2 linked regions of the Homo sapiens genome follow. The protein of the gene in region 1 purifies or fractionates together with the protein of each later gene. This does not show direct contact. Each region holds a gene or a part of one and is shown in the gene's direction. Other genes may lie near its edges. The genes, in order: PCDH7 and CYBRD1.

What was found.
Region 2: the proteins of PCDH7 (region 1) and CYBRD1 purify together in Homo sapiens (affinity purification with mass spectrometry; one large-scale study listed by BioGRID and IntAct). This does not show direct contact.

Annotation. Positions count from the first base shown.
Region 1 is NC_000004.12:30,922,697-30,926,532, forward strand, and holds part of PCDH7 (protocadherin-7 isoform d precursor), read left to right. Parts: intron 1-3,836.
Region 2 is NC_000002.12:171,553,307-171,556,220, forward strand, and holds part of CYBRD1 (plasma membrane ascorbate-dependent reductase CYBRD1), read left to right. Parts: intron 1-39; coding exon 40-194; intron 195-1,217; coding exon 1,218-1,521; 3' UTR 1,522-2,914. UniProt on the Homo sapiens protein: Plasma membrane reductase that uses cytoplasmic ascorbate as an electron donor to reduce extracellular Fe(3+) into Fe(2+).

The DNA of each region.
Region 1 (3,836 bases):
TGTAACGGATCTTTCCTGATTTTGTATGTGACCAACACTTGAAAGTCAGAGTTTATATGACCATTTGTCATCTACTGGCTGTGATTCATGTTAGCCTTGATCTATAGGTAATGACAAAATGAGATGCGATGCACTGTGGCTGATCTAAATGTAGCAGTTGACCTTTGAGTAACAAATTTGTTGGGTCCGTGTTTTCAGACTACTCATCTAGCCATAAAGTGCAATTGTGTTGCTTAAATTCTGGTAATTTCATCTTCAGTATTAATGGATCATTCTGACATAAATAGAATTGGAATTGAAACCTGTCAAGTATTCATTTGTCACATTTAATTGGAATCCAGGTAATCTGTAGTTTTTTGCTTGGCTAGGTTTTAATCAGGATTTGTATTGGATTTTCATTTGGATTTTCCATTAAAATACCATTTTGGATGCTGTGCTAGTTCCTAATTATTATTACCTCAAACATTTTTCTTGAATTTTAACCTATGTGAAACAATGCAGTTATCAGCAAGTGTTTGGGATTAACTTTCATTGTAAAGTTTAGAAGATAATTTCTAGTGCAATAACAAGTAAAATTCCAATGTCATGCTAACAAACCAGGAATAAGTTAGGATAGCTAATGATAAAAATACATTTTCACAAATGCAGAGAAGGAACAGAAACAAGAAAATTTAAGTGAAATGTACTTACATTTTACAAAAGCGTTATCTTCCTTCTGTACTGTAGTATGATGAATACAATTTCATTCAAAGGGCCTGTGTATTAATTCCCTGTTTAACAAGCTTTACGCTATATTCTAAAACACATTACCGCCAAATGTAGAATGAGGTTTTATTCTCTTATTAGCTAAGGAAAAAGAATATACCATAAGAATAAATATAATTTCTTACCACCGGAATCTAATAATGTAGAATGAGATCCACCATTTTAAAGTTCCAAATCTGTAGAATGCCACAGGTCCCTGGAAAGTAACACTAGAAATTACCCCATTTAAAAAATATTTTAAGAAAACCTTATTAGTTATACATTTATTTGTGACAAAGATTACTAATATATATTTCTTTGCCTTTAATTATCATCATTATGATAATTTCATGCTAATCTTTTAATATCAATCTAATCAAAGATTGAGGAAATTGGTTATTTGTTTCATTAAAATACATTTAGCAATAAAGTAATAATTCATATAGAGTTTATGGGGGAAATAGGTAATACAAACATTTGACAATGAAAATGTTAGAATAATTGATGCATATTGCAATGGATTGGTAATTCAAGTTAAAAACCAAACATTAGGCTTAAAAGCACCATCTCATTCAAGGCAAGCATTGACTGTGCAAGAGTTTGCTCTTATTTTAATTACGCAGTAGTCTTCAGACTTTCTCTTGGAGTGGTATACAATGGTTTCTTTAGGTCTATTGTATTTATCCTGGTCCCTACCTTCATGCCATGACCTACTTGATCTTTCCAAAGCCCCCTCTAAATTATCTTTGCAAAGCCAGTTTGCCTTTGCTATGTAAGTCTTTATGATAATTAGTGTTTAATAAGCTCAGATATAGAAAACACCTTGCTTGGCTTCTCATCTCAATTTTGCCATCAGCATTGGGTAGGCTACTGTCTAAGGAAATTGATAAATCAACTCTGAAATCTTACTCGGTTCCAGGTCCAATAATCTGTGATTCTCTTACATTCAATTTTTCTTGTATCTTTTATGCTATAGAATGGAGACATTTGTCTCATAGTAAGATAGTGAGTGAATTTGACAATGTATGTTAATGTGGGCAGGCCAGTAGTGATTCTAGGGCCTTTCTCTGAACCCACACAGCAAGTGCATTTTAATAGTAGAAAATGCATTTATTACATAAATCAAAGGAGTGGACTGAATCAAATGGTGTGATTTCTGGCCAGGTGGGTGGAAATGTTGGCACCATAGTAGGCCAGTGTGGGAGACAGCTGTGGAGCCTCCTTCAGATCCCACTATGCAAGAACCATCTGTAGATCTGATCAAGCCCTGGGTGCAATGCCCTTGAAATACATGAATTATGATTAAGACATTTCACAATAGAATAAGCACATGTGTTTTCTTACTTAACAATGTGAACTTTGGTCAGAGTACAAATGAAAAAAAAAAGGTAGGAAATAATATATATTTTTCTGTAGGTAGACTTTCTTAAATATCACACCATAAAAATAAATTAAAAAAAAAACAGCAGATGATCCATAAACCAGGTTTATAACAAGTTAAATGAGGTTCGAAATTTGGCCACTCTAAATCCCTAATTCATTTTATGCCTCTTGATTTTCTCAGATCTTTAAATAATACTTTTGACTTTATACATGAATATTTTTGAACTTTCCCTTTCCAAACTTCCTTACTTTGTCACACTTATATAAGCTAAGCTCAACTGTTTGATTCATTCCATTTCCTTCATCTCTTCATTCTACATGCATTATACCTTGTCCTTGATTATTTAAACATGCTGCAGTAAAACATGGACTTTTCATATTGCTTTTAGACAGTGTATTTGAAATATCATTGAGAATAAGCCACTAATTTTAAATGGCCAAGTGTAATGAGCATAGAGACCAAAGGCATATCTTTGTATGAGATAAAGGACCTCCTCTTTCTCTCTCCTTTTCTCCTGTCTCCCAATTTTCAAGCAGGCATCTGTCAGGCAAAGTTGTCTAGTTATTGGTTTGTGCTGATTTCACGTAGATTGAGCAAACTTCTCTAGCAAGGCTGCCTCTTCCATCTTTCCAAAGATCCTCATATACTTTTTAATGGCATAAGCACAATACCTAAAATACCAAATACCTGTCATACCTTTTTTCGTCTTCTGCAGAAAGAGACTAACATGACTTGCTAAGGATTCATTTTCACAGTTTTGCATTTCTCTGTGCCACCCTAGTTGCCAGTGTCTGACTGAGGCTGCAATTGTTTTCACCTTTCCTGTCAATTGTGACATGGCTCTATACCTCCCAAGTATCCCCCAAAAGTCTGTATGCCACCACTTTGGGAGGGTGCTATTCACTTTGAATTTCTTCATAGTAATATATAGAGAGATGGATTATAGAGACTGTCTCTAAGCCAGAACTCAACTAATTAAAATGTGTGCTATAGTGGCTTCTCAGCTGTCTAGTAAAATGAGCAGTACAATCTAAAAGAGTCTAAAGAAGGTACTGTCCTAGAGAAGAATTGGCAGTGCTGTAAGTAGAATCTACTGGTTTACAAAACAAGCTTTGAAATCTGATGACCTCAGTTTGAATCCTGGCTTTACCTCCTACAAGGAGTATTATTTTCTAACCCCTCTTAGCTTCAGTTTGTTCAATTGCAAATCATAGGATTGCAGAAGGAACTAAATGAGACAATAATATGCAATAATTTATAAATAAGTAATAAGTTGTATTTTCACTATATTAATTGATAAAATGTTTTACCATTATTATTTAAATAACAATGATAAATAGTTGGGATTATTATTAACTTTAGGTCGTTTTTTTTTTTTGAGATGGAGTCTCACTCTGCCACCCAGGCTGGAGTGCAGTGGCACAATCTCGGCTCACCGCAAGTTCCGCCTCCTGCGTTCAAACCATTCTGCTGCCTCAGCCTCCAGAGTAGCTGGGACTATAGGCGCCCGCCACCACACTCGGCTAATTTTTTGTATTTTTAGTAGAGACAGGGTTTCACCATGTTAGCTAGGATGGTCTCCAACTCCTGACTTCGTGATCTGCCTGCCTCAGCCTCCCAAAGTGCTGGGATTACAGGCGTGAGCCACCACACCCAGCCAACTTTAGGTAAATTTGATATAATACAATGGCTTAGTCATGAGGACTTC
Region 2 (2,914 bases), on another chromosome or scaffold:
TAAAATTAAATGATAACCTTTGCACTTTTTGGTGTTTAGCTTCTTTCAGGTTTTTCAGTCTTTCTGCTTCCATGGGCTCCGCTTTCTCTCCGAGCATTTCTCATGCCCATACATGTTTATTCTGGAATTGTCATCTTTGGAACAGTGATTGCAACAGCACTTATGGGATTGACAGAGAAACTGATTTTTTCCCTGTAAGTTGCATAGTCTTCTTAATTGTAATACTTAAGCCACAAAATGTTAAATACTTGTTCACTGGGAAAATGTAATAAAAATATAACAAAATTTTTTAGATATTAAAATTAAAAAATATTTTAAAGAATTTGTTATATCATATAGGTAATATGATATTACTAAAAGTTTAGAAGGACCAAAAAGTCTGACAAATTGTATTACTCTTATGAAACAACTATTGAAGTTATACATTCCCTTTCAATCTTGTTGATATGCATGTTTTTATATTAATTGTAATTATAGTGTACATACATTTTTGTTTCATCCTTTTTAAAAATTTTAAGTGATAACTGTTACTGGTGGAGGGTGTCCAGGTTCTTGGCGTTTTGAACAAAGAAGTGGACAAAACACACAAACAAAGCAAGTAAAGAATGAAGCAACAAAAGCAGAGAGTTACTGAAAATGAAAGTACACTCCACAGGGCGGGAGTGGCCTGAGCAGCCACTCAACGGCCCGATAGGGAATCTTCTTGGGTCCAAATAGCCCCTAGAGGTTTCCCATTGGCCAGTTGGTGTTCACTGCATGTAAATGAAGTGGTGGCCTGCAGTCAGTTTGATTGGTTGTAGAAAGCAACCAATCAGAGATACTTTCAATTTTCCATCCGCCATGCAGAAAAGCGGGGTTTGCAAAGGGAGTAGCCTCGGGTCCTTTTGCTACTTAGATGTGGAAAGTTGGGGTTTTCCTTTTGGTTTAGTTCTAGGAAGTCCGTGTGAATTGACCTGAGGTTGCCTGCCTCCAGACCCTACCTGCCTTAAAACAAGTGTTACAGATGCTATATTATTTTCATATTTATTATTTTTAAATCAATTTCATTATATATTCCCGAGTGAATTGTAGCATAATTTATATTTCTCCTTAATAGCAAGCTTTGAGAGTTTACATTGAAACTGTACTAGTGTGCATTTTGAGCAGATAAATTCAAGACTGTTTTGCATGTTGCTGTATCATCCTGTTTGTAATTGGATACATCTCTTATTTCATAGGAGAGATCCTGCATACAGTACATTCCCGCCAGAAGGTGTTTTCGTAAATACGCTTGGCCTTCTGATCCTGGTGTTCGGGGCCCTCATTTTTTGGATAGTCACCAGACCGCAATGGAAACGTCCTAAGGAGCCAAATTCTACCATTCTTCATCCAAATGGAGGCACTGAACAGGGAGCAAGAGGTTCCATGCCAGCCTACTCTGGCAACAACATGGACAAATCAGATTCAGAGTTAAACAGTGAAGTAGCAGCAAGGAAAAGAAACTTAGCTCTGGATGAGGCTGGGCAGAGATCTACCATGTAAAATGTTGTAGAGATAGAGCCATATAACGTCACGTTTCAAAACTAGCTCTACAGTTTTGCTTCTCCTATTAGCCATATGATAATTGGGCTATGTAGTATCAATATTTACTTTAATCACAAAGGATGGTTTCTTGAAATAATTTGTATTGATTGAGGCCTATGAACTGACCTGAATTGGAAAGGATGTGATTAATATAAATAATAGCAGATATAAATTGTGGTTATGTTACCTTTATCTTGTTGAGGACCACAACATTAGCACGGTGCCTTGTGCAGAATAGATACTCAATATGTGAATATGTGTCTACTAGTAGTTAATTGGATAAACTGGCAGCATCCCTGGCCTGTTGTCATGCAGTCATTTCCTGTTAATTCTGGGAGACAATGATTTCACAACTAGCGGGAAGCAGTCCTAAAAGTTTAAAATCCGATAAGGAATATCTGGGACAGGGTTTAGATCATGACTCTACACAGATACCATGATGAGAGTATATTAAAGAAATTTAGGAAAGCACCTGGTTCCTTTCTCCCCATGCCTGCCTTCTGCTCCCTCCCCAGCTGGTTTGGGCTCAAATTGTCCCTGGAGACTAGGGTTTATGTTAGGGTATTGATAGATTAGAGCAGGTGGTTGAAGAGATCTTCTCTGGTCAGACTTGGAAGAATTTCCAAAACTGAAGTTAGCCCCAAGACTTCCCTAGGGTTGATGTACTTTATGATCCAGATGCTAAACTTCTTAGAATGAAAATATGCTTCAACACTTAAGTAGCATACACTGCCCTACAAACCTCAGAGAGCACTTTTCCCCAAGTTCTTGTTTTTATTTTTGAAAGTACTCACACAGCACTTACTATGCTCCAAACACTCCTCTAAGCACTTTACACATATTAGCTCATTCAGTCCCCAGACAGACGGGATGAAGTAGGTATTGTTACTGTTCCCATTTTACAGGTGAGAGATTTGAAGCCTGGGGAGGCTAGTAACTCACCCCAAGGTCACACGGCTCATACATGGTGGGACTGAGACTCAGATGCAGGCAGTCTGGCACCTCAGTCTGGATTCTAACCATTTCACTAAGCTATTTTTGTCTTGTACTACTTTGACCCACCCCTGAATAAACCTCAATTGCTGGAGTGGGGTGTAGTTATTAAAGGGATGCTTTTTACCTTTTGCTGTTTGCTGTGGCAGATTCCCCAGATAACCAAGGAAAAGGGGCCACCCATACCTGGAAATAGGCCATAGGGCCCCTACTACTGCCAACAAGCCATGGCCTACCTTGACACTTGTTTGATCTTAAAATTGTGTCTTGGTAACAAAAGATTTGGACAGGCATATCTGTAGCTTTCAAGTTAATTAATTGCAATATTTTTTTCTTCAGGATTTTAGCTGCTGAACAA